2 separate regions of the Homo sapiens genome follow, and region 2 is linked to region 1. The links come from fine-mapping of genetic effects on gene expression. A gene starts in region 1. The other region holds a variant in brackets. All regions are shown on one strand. Distances are between the middles of the regions. Region 1 holds the start of ABHD2 (abhydrolase domain containing 2, acylglycerol lipase). Region 2 overlaps ABHD2 (abhydrolase domain containing 2, acylglycerol lipase).

Region 1 (8,998 bases):
AAAAATACAAAATTAGCTGGGGGTGGTGGCGTGTGCCTGTAATCCCAGCTACTTGAGAGGCTGAGGCAGGAAAATCGTTTGAACCCGCGAAGCAGAGGTTGCAGCGAGCCAAGATTGCGCCACTGCACTCCAGCCTGGGAGACAAAAGTGAGACTCTGTCTCAAAAAAAAAAAAAAAAAAAAAAAAGAATGAAAAAAGATGCTGGAAATGTGACTTGGGGAGGCCAGGAAGCTTCTCTGGAGAACAGAGAGCAAACGGCAAACTTTCCCTGGAAATGCTAGCACATTCTGCACAGACGGCAAGGCGAAGAAGGGCCCAAGGACCAATGCGTTCCTCACTCTCCAGTGCCCCAGCTCTCCCTTCTCAGCTGACCTTTAGAAGCTCCCCTGCACCTCCCCCGGGCTCTCACAGAAAAGAAAAATATTTGCCTCCAAATATTCACAAGATCTTTAAGATCTCCAGCAAAGCTGCTGCCTAAATAAGACTGTTTTTTAGCATCCTTAGAAACAGAAAACAGATATCTAAAATAGACGGCCTTCATAAAAAATGACGTGGAAGCTCTTTTCACACTGCCAAGAAATATTAAGTGAAAAAGGCAAGGTTCCAAATAGCATGTATGCAGTGTGCTACCATTTCTGCAAAAAGGGGTGGTGTACAGAATATGTTTAACGAATTTGCTTACAGATGTATAAAATCCCTTGGAAGTTCAGGGACCACTTCTGGAGGATGAAGAAATCGCTAATACTGGTTGCCTCTGAGGATCAGGGGTCAGGGGTACACACAGATGTATTTACTAGTTAACCTTTTGTGCCTTTAAAAAATTTTCTTTCATCATGTGAATGTATTGCCTATTTTTAAAAACTAAAATTTGAATTAAAAAATTTTAAAATTTCTATTAAAAACAATTTTAAAACAAAATAGTTTTTAAGCAACAAACCAAACTAATTTGTTAATCTTGTCAACTGTGTTCCTGGCACACACCAGATGCTTAATTTGTTGAACTTAATGAACCTCCACTTAAAGACAACAAAAGAAAATCAGAAACCAGGCAAATCCAAGGGTACCAACGTTCCACTTCTCTAAAAAGCTCTTCACCTGTCTGCTATTTATTGTGAAAGATCAGACAATGAGTCGGTGTGTAACAAGCCCCTCACCCAAATGGCCCCAGTCCACAAGCTTCAGGGGTAATGGTGGAGCTTATCGTCTGTCCACACCAACCATTTTACAAACAGAAAACATTCAATCCAAAAATATGATGCCCTGGACAAGACAACAAAAATCAATCTGCAGATATGAAAATCCTGAAAGGAGATAATGTAGCATCTGTATGGTATCAACAAAGAAACAGCAGCACAGGGCTTAAAAATGTCCTACTCATGCACTGGCCAAAAAGGCTGAACCATGAAAAGCTGCTATAAAATCCTGACACCAGACACATTTAAGAGGCACCCTGAACTTCTCATTGCTCTGTTCCTGGGGATAGCTTAGCCCAAGATGAAACAGAAAGGCTAAAGCAACTCATGCCCCACATCATCTATACTCTGAAACTGGTCATGGAGTACTCAAAACTCACAATGCAATAAAAATGGGAATACTGTAAGCTGTAGGTCATGGTAGAAATTCTGCCACACAAAATTCAATTATATTGGAAATGTCTCTCTCCTGGGGCTTTTAAAAGAGCCAGATTTTAGGCAAAAAATAAGACAGACTCTACCCCTGTCTCCCATAAGACCAAAGAAATTATTTCCTGCTCGGGGCAGGAGCTCTGAACAAGGGCAGTGAGAACCACTACAGAGGTTATGGGTCCTGCCGGAGATTACCAGGAAAAGGCGTAAATGCTTAAAGCAACGAGTAACAGCAAATGAGAAGCTCATCCACCAAAATACTGAGAAAAGAGAGTGAGAAAGAGAGAAAGGGGCCCATATTAATACACAAGCAAAGAAATGAAAACTATTATTCTAAAATGGCTGATCTCTAGAACAGCTTAAACAAAAACCGAAATTCAGAATCAACTCAAGAAAAATAAAGCATGAGAAGGTGCCATTTAATGAAGTGATAATCTTTGGTTCAATCTAGAAAACAAGTAAAAACAGAAGAGAAAATCAAAGGTGACTGGATTCCTGCAAAAAATGAAAGTGGCAGGCATCTTTTCATCAAAAGGGAATTGGCTGGCACACTGAGAGTGCCTATTTGTCAGACCCACGCAGGCGATAAAGGAAATGAAGGTGAGAGTAAAAAGGGAAAAAAGTGAACGACCCTGACTAAAATGAGAGGAAAAAGACCATTCCCTTGTACTTGCCATCTGGTTTATTTCAAGCTTTGGAAAAGAACAGGAAAAACACAGATAAACCAGTGAACCAGCTAGATTGCCAGCACGGATCAGTCACACACTTTTGCTTCTGCCAGGCCAGGCAGGCGCTGCTGGTGCTCCCCCTATTCGAATGACTAAGTAACTTCCTTAAATGCAGTTGACACATGATCCCTGAACTTCCGAAAAGCACTTAATACAGTGGCTCATAAAATCTTAATCTAAAAATGTTCATCCATTTAGAATCAAGCTGCATCACACTCATCGCTTGGGAGGAGGGCTGAAGAGAGGGAATACATATTTGGAAGGACACCATGGACACGGGTATCATCCAGGACTTTACCATTTCGAGGGATTCCCACCCCTCACTGCCTGCTTTTAACGATAATTTTAAAGGGTTCAGAGCCTAAGAAGAATGTAACTGCAAGGGGGAACTAACATAGAAACTAAATTACCTGAATCACAAAAATAAGTAAGGTATAAAATGCAACGTGACTTGGAAACCCCTTGCAGCTGTCTGTGTTAAAATGAAATCTGGAATATGTTAAATGAATTTGGGGGTGGGGGGAAGGGGACTGGGGGAAAAATTAGCTCTTGATAGAGTATTGGGTGGTGGATATGAAGAAAAATGTACAAAAAGGCAACAGAATATCATATCTAGCAAATCTATTGTGCTTACCCTGTGCCAGGTACTGTTCTAAATGCTTCAGATGTAGTAACTCCATGCACTTCTCAAAACAATCTTCTAACATAAGTATCATTATTATTTCTGTTTTAGAGGTGAGGAAACAGAGGCACAGAGAAGTTAAGTAGCTTGCCCAAGGTTGTACAGCCAGTAAGAGGCAGGGCTGGGATTCAAATCCAGGCACTCAGGCACCAAAATCTGTCCTCCTAACCTCTCTGGACTCCCCTAGAACTTAAAACACTGAGAATGGGCAAACTAAGCTTGGAGTGAAATAAGTCATGCACTGGCTAGATCTAAATACAGTCAAGAGATCAACCCTTAGTCATGGGCCTGTGATGACCAACCAGCCCTGTGACCACCCCAGGCCTCAGTTTCCTCACCTGTGCATTGAGGAGACTGAATGAGAGTCCACCTAATTAGACTTAGATAGAGATGAGCTCTATCTAAGGTGCCTTCAGCTCTAAAATGTCACAGTCCGTGCTGACTACCAGCTGTATATGGACTGCTTTCTGACTAGATGTTCAAAGATTAATTCATCCTAAAACACACAGCAAGGTGTGTTAAGATTCTTTCTCTGCCTCCTGACCTTTAGATTATTATGTTCTCTCTATTCCGGCAAATGACAGAGGGTAGTGAAGGATTTCTCTTTTGGACTCTGCTTAATGTGGCTGTAAGGAAACGGCCTTCGAAAAGCTCTGGGCACAGATCTTGTTGACTCTGCCAAACCTGCAGTCTCTCCAGGTCCCTCTGTGGAGCCTGTTCTTGGAACATGCCTTTGGATTTGGTTACTGGAATGCAGGTGAAACTGACAAACTGGAGGTCCAGCAACCAAAAAAGAGAGATTGGGAAGATTAAGAGAGCGGTCCATGGTAGTTCAAATACAAGGAGTTTCACAGTGGCTAAATAAACCTCTATCTTTTTGTATAATCCAGTCTCTTTGCTAACACCCACTCTTGAGAGCTGAAACCTCAAAATTCATTATGGGTGAATTCAACAGCCACTTGGAACCTAATGGACCCCCAGAAGTACTCTTCTCAAGCTAGGCATCAAAGGCCACTTAGAGTGCATTTGTGGGTAGAGAAGGCCCTTACAGATGGGTCATGCAGTCCTCCCTTGGGAGTCCTAAGCATCCGACACAGGTGGCTGTCATCAGGCCACTGCTTGGACATCGCCAAGGTCGAGGCGCTAGCTGCCCGGCCTGGCAGGCAGCCTCCTGCGCTGCTGGACAGCTCTAGCTGTGGGAAAAGCTCACGAAGGGCCTAGAACAGTGCCGGTCGCGGGGCCGAACTCGGTAAATGTGCTTCCAAGTGGGTCAAAAGCTGCCTTTCTAGAACTTAAACCCACTGGTCCTGCGTGAGCCCCTGGAGCCCCGAAACACAGAGGCCTCTCGGGTATCTCGGGCTGTAATCAGGCCCCTCGGCCCTCTCCTTCCAGGTGCGGATCCCGGACCTTCTTCGCCGAGCCTGAACCGGCAGACCCCTCCCCAGGCCCCTGAAGACCCAGGAGTGAGCACCAATGGGGGAAAGGCCGCGGTCGGGGTTGTCCCCAACCTCGGTTCCTCGGGCAGAAGGGGACAAAGGGCCTCAGGAAGGCGTATCCCCCGCCGCGATCTGGGCTGTCCCCACCACTGGGCAAGCCAGCCCCTGGGACCCCCACGGCGCCAGATGACAGGCCCCCCAGGATCCCCTCAGGCTGCGGCGTGATGGGCCGAGCTACGCCGGGGACCTCGGGGCTCGGAGATTCGGTTCGACGGGTCCGGGGTGCGATCCCCGCTCCGCGGAGCTCGCTCGGCCGTGGCTTTACCTGCGTGTGATTGACTACAGGTGCTCAGCTCGCCCCCAGTCTGGTTCCTGCAGCTCCCCGGCTGCCAGCGGCGCTCATGGATATACAGCCGGAACCCCTGGCCAGTGCAGCTCCCGCCGCTACCGGCCCCGCCCAAGTAACTGCCGCCACGCCCCTGACGACCGCTTCTGCCACGCCCCTAACCACGGAAACCGCTTGTTCATTGGGCAGTTCAGCCGCTTCTCCACTTGCCCCGCGCGCTCATTGCGTCTAGGAGGGGATCCATTGATCAGCGAAGCTGTTCCTCAGAGTGGAGGCGGGATTCTTAGGGGAGAGCTCCTCAGCAATTGGTTACATTTGACGGCTTTAGTCCAGGGACCCAGACGCTACTGGATAAGGCCAGCCCGGAGTGGGCGGGGAAAGGGGAGGAGGGCTAGAAGGTGGGTCGTGTTTGATGTCGATGGGGGCGGGGTGAAGAGACGGGTAATTGTGACCGCAAACTGCTTTAGAGGGCTGGGTAAGGTCAGCTGTCGACTGGGCTCAGAGGAATGAGGTCGGCTGGTAGCTCAGCTGCTGGTAGCTCAGCTGGGGCTCTTATGGGTCCAGGCCGACTGACTGACTCACGTGTACTCAAATTTCGCAGGGGTGAAATTTGAGGTCATATCCCGGGAGAGAGGAAGAAGGGTCGTGAGTCACCGAACCCGAAGGAGAGGAAAAGATGTGGAGGCAGCGGTCTATGGCCTCTTCCAGCTCCGGACGGGGGATGGGGACGCTCTGGGCAATACGGGCCTCAGTTATTGTCCCACTGTCCTTTCAACCCTTAACCAACCCAGTTGGAGGCCGCCTGGAAGAATGTAGCCTTGGAACTAGGGCCTGGAATTGGGGCTCCTACCGGTTGTGTGGGCTTGGGCAAGTCACTTAACCTTCCCGCATGCTCCCTTCACTTGGCAACTGAGGGTAACAATAGTAGTTGATGAGAAGATTAAATAAACTCTGATAAATGCCAACAGTGGCTGGCACTCAACAGGCATTCAATCAAGGCTGATTCTTCCCCCATCACCCACTCACCTCATCCGGCTGGGAAACTAGGCCCATTTCTAAAATTCTATGAGCCTGAAACTGCTTTTGCAATGGCATGTCGTGTACCAAGAATAGAACACTTGAGCGACTTGAAATGCAACCCCTGTAGGGCAGACAAGGCCACCCTACCAAGGCCCCATAGGGCTCGGAGAGAGGGAGCAGGGGATGAAATGAGAGGAGCGATTTAGTCAGAGAAGGGAAGTGGCATTTGTTACCATGTAAATTTTTCCCAACATATTTCAGGTTGTGACAAGGAACAGTGGGCTGGCTCAAGTTTTATGGAGCGTAACCAAATAACATCCTTTGAAGGCTGATCAGCACCGGACCAGAAATCATTGCATGAGCTCTATCTGTCAGAGACCCCTGAAACCCATTCCCCATTCTGAAGGTGTAGACATCACAGAGTGTGGACAGAAATAGCTTCTCAGGCCTGAATGTAGCCCCAGACCCTTTGTGTCTGTCTTTGAAAGAACTCACAGCCATGGTACATCAGAGTGAAGGAGAAGAAAGAATCCTTTGCCATTGCTCTATTTTTCATTCAGTTGTCATGTTACCTTGAAAAAAAAAGGTTTCATCTCAGTGTTTATATATTCCTCTGTATTCTCTTTCATCTTGGAAAAGAAAAACCCAGGCTTCAGTAGCAAAGTCTCTTAGTGATGAACCCCATCGTCCTGACTCTGAGTTAAAACAGTTTGGACTTCCAAAAAAGAGCTTTAGATTATCACTAGATAAGTATATAAGGTAATGCATATGTTAACTAGCTTGGTGTAGCTATCCCACAATGTATACATGTATCAAAACATGGACCGGTACAGTGGCTCACGCCTGTAATCCAACATTTTGGGAAGCTGAGGCGGAGCCCAGGAGTCTGAGACCAACCTGGGCAACATAGTGAGACCCCGTCTCTACAAAAAATTTAAAATTTAGCCTGATGTGGTGGTGCATGCCTGTAGTCCCAGCTAGTGGGGAGGCTGAGGCAGGAGGGTTGTTTGAGCCCAGGAAGTTGAGGCTGCAGTGAGCTGTGATCGCACCACTGCACTCCAGCCTGGGCCACAGAGTGAGACCTTGTTTGACAAATAAACATAATAACATGATAAACATAAATAAGTAAAGCATGTTGTACATCATAAATATATACAAATTTTGTCAATTAAAAATTAATAATAATTTAAAAAATAGGCTGGGCACAGTGGCTCAAGCCTGTAATCCCAGCACTTTGGGAGGCCAAGGCAGGAGGATCACCTGAGGTCAGCAGTTCCAGACCAGCCTGGCCATCATGGTGAAACCCCATCTCTACTAAAAATACAAAATTAGCTGGGCATGGTGGCACACACCTGTAATCCCAGCTACTCAGGAGGCTGAGGCAGGATAATCGTTTGAACCCAGGAAGCAGAGGCTGCAGTGAGATTGCACCACTGCATTCCAGCTTGGATGACAGAGTGAGACTCTGTCTCAGAAAAAAAAAAACAAAAAAGATTTGTCACTAGTTTTGGAGGGGTGTGTACACATATCTATGTACACATTTGGTTCTGATCCACAGTTTTCTGGTTCTTGTCTTTAAACAGTGCTGCTTGGTAGCCATACACATGGCTGCATGCATGTTACGGAAATAGGCCCAGCCCAATACAGGTTTGCTTCTGCCTGTGTTTGCTAAGGGAAAGTGAGATGTCTTGTTAGGCCCTGAAAAGCATGAAGTGGCTCCTGAGATCCAGGATGATTTCTCCAACTTGATTCAGAGCCACAAAAAGCAGCTGTTAGGAGTAGATTGCAGATGGGCTCGCCATTGTGTAAATGGCTTTTTTCTCCCATCTCAGGAACATAGGTTCAGCCACCAGTTCCAGAAAAGGACATCTTTCCAGTTCAGGAATTCTAAAACACAATTATGTCACAGAGGCTCAAAAAGAGGCACAGACTGAGCTCAGGAAGAGGAGGAAGAGTAAAAGGATCCGGGCATCTTCTCTGCAGCTCTGGCAGGCTTAAAGAATGATCCATTATCATTTCCCAGCACACAGAACTGTTTCCTTAATTGTCTCTGGTTTCTGTTTCCTCCCTTCTGCTTGCAGTCTTGCCATATTCTGTTTAATCATATTATTTCATTCTATAAATCATTTCTGAGGGAGGCCATTTAGGAGACAAAATGGACTTATTTTTGCCTTCAAGTTTAGTGGCCCGTTGGGATTGAGGATTTGGTGAGCCTTGGCCTGAGATAAGCAGGTGTTGGGATGTGGCTGTAAAGTGAATTTTCAAAACCGTGACAGTACCTTGTAATAAAAAAGAACAAGGGAGAGGGTATGCCCCAGTCACCTTCTGGGATGGCCAAAGCTGCAGGACTTCATTAAAGCAGAACTGCTTCTAACTCAACTGGGGCCTCTGCAGGATTTACTAACCTGAGAAAGTCAAGGTACTCTGGGAGACAGCAGGGAGCAGTGGTTGGAGCAGATAATATGTTCTATTTATTCTTTTAAGGAAAATCAGCAATTCACTCAGTTTGTCATTTTTGTTATTCTGTGTCCTCGGGGGATGGTTCAGAGAAAGGGGATTTGGAAGCTCTACTGCTGGGGATTGGATCCTGATTCCATCCTTCCTAGCCTTGTGACCTTGGGCGAGTACAGCACATCTCTGTGCCCTACTTTCTTCTGTAAAACGCAGAGGACAGTGAAGTGCTTGTCTCATGGGGTCCTTTGAGTGGCAGATGAGTTCACAGATGCAAAGTGCATCAAACAGTACCTGGCAAATACCTAAAAATGTTTAATAAATGTTTGCCACAGCTATTATAGGAGCCCATTTCAGAACCTTCCTCTAAGGTCCTCACTCATTTTCTAAGTTCTAGCCCTCAGAAGTAGTGATCACAGGATTCAGGATTTTTAGAAAATATAGATAGACTTTATTTTTTAAAGCAGTTTTAGGGCCAGGCGCCGTGGCTCATGCCTGTAATCCCAACACTTTGGGAGGCTGAGGTGGGCGGATCACTTGAAGCCAGGAGTTTGAGACCAGTCTGGTCAATTGGCGAAACACCGTCTCTACTAAAAATACAAAAATTAGCTGGGTGTGGTGACGTGTGCCTGTAATCCCAGCTACTTGGGAGGCTGAGGCAGGAGAATCGCTTGAACCTAGGAGGCGGCGGATGCAGTGAACCAAGATCG
Region 2 (8,998 bases), 44 kb before region 1:
GATCTGCACAGGAAAATTCCAATGCAGAGACTGTTTCTGCCTGAAATGACCAAAAGTGGCCTGAGGAAACAAAAGAGCAATCCTCTTCCGTTCCCGAACTGGTTTCTAAATACAGGACGGAGGCCACTGGGCCAGGCTGGTACATCTGTGACCTTTGTGCATATCGTGCAAACTATAAAATATGAATGTTAGGAGAACAGCCCCATGAGTTACAATAAAACCACTTAAAAAGAAACTACTTTTTTGCTCCAAGGAAAAATAAATGTGCTTTTCTAAAGTTCAAAGAAAACCAGTTAAAACCCCTCAGAACTGTATCCACATGTTAAATGCATCTGATCCCACTATCTTCCTGTTCACAAACAGCACGCGGAACTGGTCACATCCTCCCTAGGCACACCAAAGCACAGTCCTCTCTCCTCACGTTGCATTTCAACCTGGTTTTGACACCATGCTTTAAGTAGGGAGGCAGTTTATTAAGAAGCTCCAGAGTTCCAGTCTCCAGGGTTCCACTGGAACCCTGGATCCGTTAGAGAACTGGTCCTGCAAACAGCCAGTCAAAGATTAGTGACCTAACTTTAGGAGAAGGCACCACTATTCCCAGACCTGGGCTGCCAAGGTGCTAAGTGCAAAGTTCCCAGACTCACTCTGTGCTAACCAAACAGGATGTACGCTGACGCTCAGAACACAGAGCACCCGTGTCTTGTCCCCATCTGCCTAGTCACCTCTCTCCTGAGGACATGCACATAGATGCCAATGGTCTGCTCTTTGTCCAACACAGTGCCTTTTGGCTACTTCCCAGGCCAAGGCTACCTCAAAATCTGTGCCAGCGTTATGGGGAGGGAAGATTAGAGCTGGAAAATCACATTATATTTGCCACTATTCCTAGTGGAGGAAAACTCAAATACCTAAATGTGAAGCCCCTGGATTACCTACACAGAATGCTCTTTTAAGAACACGCTAATCAACTAGGAGCTGCGCTGGCTGGAGAGCAATGTTATAGAGCGGAGAGAGTGAGGAGGCTGCACCTGGCTCCCGATATCACAGCCATTGCAGTACAATGAGCTCCATAGAGATAGCACTGGGGCAAGTGAGAGCCAGATGGGCACTGGGCAATTCTGTGCCTTGCTGAGGAAAAATAACTAAACATGGGCAAAGGAGACCCTAAGAAGCCAAGAGAGAAAATGCCATCATATGCATTTTTTGTGCAAACTTGTAGGGAGGCACATAAGAACAAACATCCAGATGCTTCAGTCAACTCCTCAGAGTTTTCTAAGAAGTGCTCAGAGAGGTGGAAGACCATGCCTACTAAACAGAAAGGAAAATTCGAAGATATGGCAAAGGCAGACAGGGCCCATACGAAAGAGAAACGAAAACCTGTATCTTTCCTAAAGGGGAGACAAAAAAGACGTTCAGGCTGGGTGTGGTGGCTCACGCCTGTAATCTCAGCACTTTGGGAGGCTGAGGCGGGTAGATCACCTAAGGTCAGGAGTTCGAGGCCAGCCTGGCCAAGACAGTGAAAGCCCGTCTCTACTGAAAAAAAAAAAAAAATTGCCAGGCATGGTGGCGGGCGTCTGTAATCCCAGCTACTCGGGAGGCTGAGGCAAAAGAATCGCTTGAACCTGGGAGGCAGAGGTTGCAGTGAGCTGAGATTGCGCCATTGCACTCCAGCCTGGGCAACAAAAGGGAAACTCCATCTCAAAAGAAAAAAAAAAAAGTTAAAGGATCCCAGTGCACCCAAGAGGCCTCCTTCGGCCTTCTTCCTGTTCTGTTCTGTCCTGTTCTGTTCTGTTCTGAGTATCGCCCAAATATCAAAGGAGAACATCTGGCCTGTCCACTAATGATGTTGCAAAGAAACTGGGAGAGATGTGGAATAACATTGCTGCAGATGACAGGCAGCCTTATAAAAAGAAGGCTGCGAAGCTGAAGGAAAAGTAAGAAAAGGATATTGCTGCATATCGGGCTAAAGGAAAGCCTGCTGCAGCAAAAAAAGGGAGTTGTCAAGGCTGAAAAAAGCAAGAAAAAGAAGGAAGAGGAGGAAGATGAGGAAGATGAAGAGGATAAGAATGAGGAGGAGGAAGATGAAGATGATGATGAATAAGTTGGTTCTAGTGTAGTTTTTTTTCTCGTCTATAAAGCATTTAACCTGTACATAACTCACTCCTTTTAAAGAAAAAAACTGAAATGTAAGGCTGTGTAAGATTTGTTTTTAAACTGTACAATGTCTTTTTTTTTTTGTATAGTTAACACACTACCAAATGTGTCTTTAGATATCCCTGTCCTGGTGGTATTTTCAATAGCCACCAACCTTGCCTAGTACAGTATGGGGATTGTAAACTGGCATGGAAATTAAAAGCAGGTTCTTGTTAGTGCATGGCACAAATTAGTTATATATGGGGATGGTAGTTTTTTCATCTTCAGTTGTCTCTGATGCAGCTTATATAAAATGACTGTTGTTAAGTGAATACCACTCTGTAATTGCAAAAAAAAAAAAAAAAAAGAAAAAGTTGTAGCCATTTTGTTGACATTCTGAATGCTTCTAAGCAAATACAATTTTTTATTAAAAATAAATAAAGAAAGAACACACCAATCAAGAGATGACTTTAAGGATTAAAATGCTGACATTTGACATCAGCATTTGTACTACATCTTGCCTTTCTTTGATGTGCAGAAAACAACTCATAAAATGGCAAGCAATGATGTTAGGAAAAAGTAGGTTCTACAAATATTTAATGAAAATTATGTTTCTTTTGTCAGTAATTATATAGATCATTACTAATAAGCCATACTCAAAACTTGACCCCATTCTTGCTCCCAGGGAGTTCACAATCAAGAAAAGGAGATAAGAAAACTTTATAATGCTCTTTCGGGCTCAAAGACTTGAATAAATGAACTTGCACTGGAAAACTTGGCATCACAAACATGTCAATTTTCCCTAAATTACCTATAAACTTAAGAGATACACAATAAAAATAATAAGATTTTTATATGTGGAATTAAACAAGCATTCTAAAGTTCATTTGGAAAAATGAACCAGCTATAATAGCCAAGAAAAGTATGAAAACAAGCAGTGCTGGGGTATGAGCATCGCCCCACTGCCCACAGCAAAACATAGTACAAAGCTGCAATCTGCTGATGGTATATGTTCAGGACCATCAACAGAACACAAAAGACTGGAAATATGCCTAAATACATCCAGGAAATTTAGTTGGTGAAAAAGGTGGCATTTGAATAATGGGGTAAAGATGGATTGTTTAATAGTGTTGGACAAAGTGTAGCCGTCTTGAAAAAAATTATGTTGGAGCCACACCTCACACCAGGATAAATTCTGGAAGGATGAAACATTTCAAAATAAAAATGAAATCATTCATATGCTAGAAGAAATTCTAGGCTTTTAAAAATAATCTTGCAGTGAAGAAGACCTTTCTAAGGAAACCAGAAATCCCAGAAGCCACAAAAGAAACAATTGAAAAATTTAATTATGCAAACATTAAAAAAAATTATGCGGCCGGGCGCCGTGGCTCACGCCTGTAATCCCAGCACTCTGGGAGGCTGAGGCGGGAGGATCACGAGGTCAGGAGATCGAGGCCATCCTGGCTAACATGGTGAAACCCCGTCTCTACTAAAAATACAAAAAAAATTAGCCGGTCGTGGTGGCAGGCACCCGTAGTCCCAGCTACTCAGGAGGCTGAGGCAGGAGAATGGTGTGAACCCAGGAGGCGGAGCTTGCAGTGAGCCGAGATCACGCCACTGCACTCTAGCCTGGGTGACAGAGCGAGACTCTGTCTCAAAAAAAAAAAAAAAAAAAATTATGCATGGCAAATACCACTATGGGCAAAGTCAAAAGACAAATGACAAACTGAGAACAAATATTTGCAATTCATATCACAAAGGGCTAATTTCCCTAGTACATAAAGAGCTCCCTCAAATGATTAGGAAAAAGACCAATGACCATCAGAAAAATGGTTAGAGGCCACCAACAGGCAGTGAACAGAAAAGGAAATAAAAAGAGTTCTAAAATATGAAAAGATACACAGTCTCTTTAATCAAAGAAAGACTAATTAAAACCACAGTGAGAAAACATTTTTCACCTACCAGATTGGCAAATATCAAAAAGTAGAACTCCTGATGTTGGCAACGTTTTGGGGAAATGTGCTCACAGTGCTGGTGTGGAGAGGCTTGAGGACAACAGCTAGCAAAATTTTCCATGCACATCCCCTTTGACCCAGTAGTTCCACCTCTAGGAGTTTATCCTATACTGACAGGTGCGCATCGTGATGAAAATACAGAAGCATTCAATGCAACATTGTGAAAGCAAAAGATTACAAATAAAGGAAACCTCTATCTAGGAGACTGGTTAAACAAACTATTTTTTTATGGAATACGAAGCAGTCAAGACATAAATGGAGGAAGCTCTTTCAGCACTCCTATGGACAAATCTCTGAGTGATATTTCACAAAGAAAAGATGGAAGGATAAACAAGAGCCGACTGACAGCAAGGGCAACACGGAGGGTACAAGGTCATAGGTTCTACTGGCTGATAAAAGAACCTCTGGGAAATGCAGCCAGGCTTCTTGACCAGGGTGAGCCTTGAGCACAAATGTAAGAGGAAGGAAATGATGCAGCTGCCCTGGAGCTTTCC[G/A]TCAGAGGAACAGTTACAAAAAGCTGATAGAAGCCACTGTTGATGGCTGTGGGTTAGCCCTGTTGAAATGGCAGCCCTCCCCTACGGTATGTGGGCACAGGAAAACATTTTCTCAGATGGTCAACAACTCCATCCTTGAGAAACCCCAGCTTAGGCACCAGACCTTCATCTTGTCCACAAAGTGAGAGAGCGCCACCAAACCATGCAGATAAGCATGTTCTAGAAAGTCCTACTAAAGCAAAGTCCATCTCTCTTTACATATAAAGGACAAATGCAAAGGACAGTGCTGGTGTCACTGCTTATTATTAGGAATGAACAAGATAATGGCTTTCAAAACTATGAAAGATGAAATGCATATTCAGAGTCCTCTTAATTTCATATCAATTTGAAATAGCTATAAGAAATTAGAAGCTTAAAAATCACCCATATCCTCACAAGCCTTGCAAAAATATTCTCATTTTTGTTTCCTTTTCATCTATATCTATCTGAAAGCAGAGTATTTACATAGTTACAACAATGGTGCTCAGATAGAGATATATAATTGTCTTCTGCTTTTTTCACTTATTCTCTATTTTTATAGATAATTAGTATGCTAAGTTCTGAACGTCTGCATAAAATTCTATCCTGTTTATTAGCTATAGTTAAGGGAGGGAGCAAACATTTATTTAGCCCCTTCTATGGGCATGTTACATAATTCAATTTGTCCCTTACAGCGATTCTTATTATTAGGACCCCCTTTACAGACAGAAACTGAGTGTCCAACAGCCTACTGCACAGCGGACCCTGCATTTGAACTCTGTGTGTGTCTGACCCGACAGCTCTTTCTTTCCCCTGCATTATCTTGCTGCTGCCTCCATTGTTGGATGCTGCTATTCCCAGTTTTTACTATAATAAACAATGCCAGCAAAACATCTTTACATATTTTGTTTTCATCTTTCTTGAATTTTTTTTTCATGTTTTTCAACTCCTGTTTAAAAAGTCCAACAGGATGCCTCATCTGTCTCCTGACTCCTGCCCCTGAGAGATGACTATTCTTAACTCCTTTAGTCGTCCCTACCATCCCACACTTGCCTTTATTTCTTAATGCCATGCTTATCCTGCTTATGCTGGTTCTTCAATTTCAGTTTTCAATAGCACCTATTGAACTTCCTACTCTGGAGGGTGCTAGCTCTCTTACGTCTCTCCTAAGACTTACATTTTCCCCTCGCCCATTCTTTTCAACACTGTTACAGCAACACTTATGGTTAATTTTCAGTGTTTATAAAATTATAATTATGGAAATATTAGCCACAAAGAAGTCATATGTTGTATTCTTTTTTGTGAAATTTTTTATTTTCCCTCAAGTTATCACTTTTATCATTTCCTCATCAGCTTAGTTTTCTATGTGCCAATCATCAATTTGTCTCCAGACTCTAGGGGACCTGTTAGTCTCTCAATAGTCAGAAACCAGTTTTGCTTTTTCTTGGACACACCACTGAGGAGTCCCTGTGCCTGTTCCCCTCTGGAAGGGCTTCCCATCCTGCCCCTTCACCTCTCTGCTGGGTCCTAGATCCCAAGGCCACACCAGATGCTATCAGACAACAGAGAAGAGAACCATAAATGTCCAGAAAGCATTCATCAGAAAGAAGGTGATTATGTTCTCTCAAATAAAGAGGCTGTGTGGAGGTATGAAGGGATTCCAGGTAGAAGGCATTGCAAATGTAAGACATAGTCAAGAGAGAACATGCAGTATGAGAAAATGTGGAGAGATCTGATGTGTCTAGAACACAAGGAATATAGGGAAGAAGGAGCGAGGGCTGATGCTGGACCTCGCCCTACAGACAGTGAGGAGCCACTTGGTTTAAAGCAGGGGCATGGCATGATGAATTTGTGCTTTAGGAAGATAATTTGGTGGCCTGCAAGATCAATTAGAAAGGGTAGAGAATGGAGGGAAAGCTATTGCATTCTTCCAGGTGAAAGCTGATGACGTCCTGCAGTGAAGCAGAGGCACTGAAGGAGAGATGGAGTGAAGGACAGAAGGAAGGAGGCCCACGTGACACAGGCTGCTGCCTGTGGCCATGATTATTCTCCTCTTCTCTGGACACAGGTGTGCTGCTTCTCAAGTTAGGCATGGGCACGAGCCTTGCTTTAAACCAGGGGTGTCTAATGTTTTGGCTTCCCTGGGCCACTTTGGAAGAATTGTCTTGGGCCACACATAAAATACACTAACACTAATGACAGCTGATGGACTAAAAGAAAAAGAAAATCACACAAAAAATCTCATAATATTTTAAGAAAGTTTATGAATTTGTGTTGGGCTGCAATCAAAGCTGTCCCAGGCCACATGCAGTCTGTGGGCTATGGGCTGGACAAGCTCTCAAGCTTGTCCAACCTGCCTTATTTTGTTGTTATTGTTCTGTTTCTTTTGTAGGCTTTTAGCAGCCTAAAGCCATGGTTTGTAGTTTCTGTCTCTAGTGATAAGCAAAAAACAGGGATGAGGAAGGGGCTTTACCGGACCAACCAGAAACAGAAACTGAGAACCCATGACTGTATTATCTCCCTTGGACACCCAAACCAATGAAATGGGAAAGGAAATGACCAAGTGCCATTTCCGGTAGCAGCCTGTAAGAGCCAGTGTGTGAGGTGTGACATTGCTCTTCCTGGCTCGGTGATGACCACGGAAGCAGGTGTTGAGATGTCACCTCCATCAGCTGGGGTCCTGGTGGGATGACAATCAGCAGAGCCCTCCTGCCCATTGAAATAAACACGTAGCATGAGTGAGAAATAAACATTTGTGGCTTTAAGATGTGCAGGTTTAGAGGTAATTAGTTACCACAGTATAAACTAGTTTACTTCGACTAATACGATGTCCAACTTAATATAATTTTGACAATATTGCCATATTTTCCTCTGAATATCAAATAATATTTCATGTTTTAAGGCTTCATTGTTACCAAGTCTTAACATTATGAGGTGCTTATTACATGTATTTCCTTATGTGGAATTTATCTAGGCACATCTTTTACCCACTTACCCACTGATGTCCTACTGACATTCAGGTGTGCTTGTGTGACCTTCGTGTACATTATGTCTTTTGCTATTTGTACAACTGATCTAGCTGATAATATTAAAATAAAAATAGCTACAATAATAGCAGCTATATTTACTGAACTCTTACACATGCCAAGTATCCTATAAATCATCTTACATGCTGTTCTTTTTTTTTTTTTAATCAGCATACTGAACCTATGAAATAAGTGCTATTATACCCATCTTACAAATGAGGAAATAGAAGCTCGGCAAGGTGAAGCCACTGGCCAGCAGGGGGCAGGGCTGGCATCTGAGCCCAGGTGGGTCTCACTGCTGATCTGGACTCTGGATTCCCGGGGGGCAACAGCTCGCTAACTTCACCCTCTCACTTGGGCCCCTGGATTTACCCTCTCAATCTTAGGGGAAAAACCTTCAATCAATTTGGCTTTCTCCTCCAGTTTCCATTTTTTCTCCTTCCTTCTCTGGTGTTTGTTTCCTGACTCACTTCTTTGGTTGCTATTGTGCTGACCTGTTTATTCACCTCACTCCTGAAAACACATTCTCAAAAATCCCTGATCCTTTCTGGCCAAGGTAGATGGCCTTTGGTCAGCCCTCATTCTTCCTGAGTTTCTGACACCCTCTTCAATGTTTTCCTTCTCTGGCTGCCATGGAACTGGAGGCTGCTGGTTCTCTCCCTACCTTTCTTACTGCCTGTCTCTGTCTCTTCCACCCTAGCCATGGCCTGCCTCAGCCATCAGTCTTTAGTGTCTCTCTCTGCCCACCCCCACAACCTCCCCTACCTGCAGCTGATCTGGAATCTACACATCTGGTCTTGAGCTCCCACCTAAGTTCTAATGCCATAATTGCACATAACCCTGTGCACATCCTGTGGACAAGCCCCAAGCTAAACAACTTTCCTTGAGAAAGCAGCTTCCCCATTAGACTTCCCTATTTCTGTCAATGATTCTATTCTCTCAACCGCTCAGTAACCTCAGCATAATCTGTGATTCAGCCCTTTCCTCTGATGCCCAAGGCCATTCCATTACCCACCAATACCACTGATTCCACCTTAGAAGACCTCTGGAATTTGTCCCATCCTTCCCTTTCCAACCACCTACCACCAGTGCTCACAGGATCAAGCCCAAACTCTTCCTCTCTGGGAATTAGAGACTCCTCGTGATCTGATCTCCTCTTCCTCCCCCCCACAGACCATAGGGCTCTCTGCTACAATCAAACAGCTCTCAGCTCACCAGATCGTGGCATAGGGACCTGGTGAGGAGCTGGCCACGAAGCAACTATAGAGACCAGACCAGTGATGGGGCCCAAAACCCATTAGCAAACAAAATCAAA

What was found. PIP is the estimated chance that this variant, and not a neighbour inherited with it, causes the effect.
Region 2: its variant is fine-mapped to the expression of ABHD2 in whole blood (TOPMed, PIP 0.98).

The regions. Positions count from the first base shown.
Region 1 is chr15:89,084,362-89,093,359 of GRCh38, reverse strand. It overlaps ABHD2 (abhydrolase domain containing 2, acylglycerol lipase), which reads right to left and starts at 4,904. Exons shown (of 11, transcript NM_152924.5): 1 at 4,797-4,904. It overlaps LOC124903573, which reads left to right. Exons shown (of 7, transcript XM_047433432.1): 3 at 1,119-1,184; 4 at 2,077-2,225; 5 at 4,428-4,525; 6 at 4,674-5,292; 7 at 5,419-5,799. The coding sequence ends at 5,633. RefSeq lists enhancers at 4,245-4,764, 4,706-4,885, 5,496-6,141.
Region 2 is chr15:89,128,643-89,137,640 of GRCh38, reverse strand. All of the region lies in intron 3 of ABHD2 (abhydrolase domain containing 2, acylglycerol lipase), which reads right to left. It also overlaps the pseudogene HMGB1P8. Among named protein-coding and RNA genes, the nearest start is that of ABHD2, 45 kb to the right of the region's middle. The variant G/A (reference allele first, on the strand shown) is at 4,640.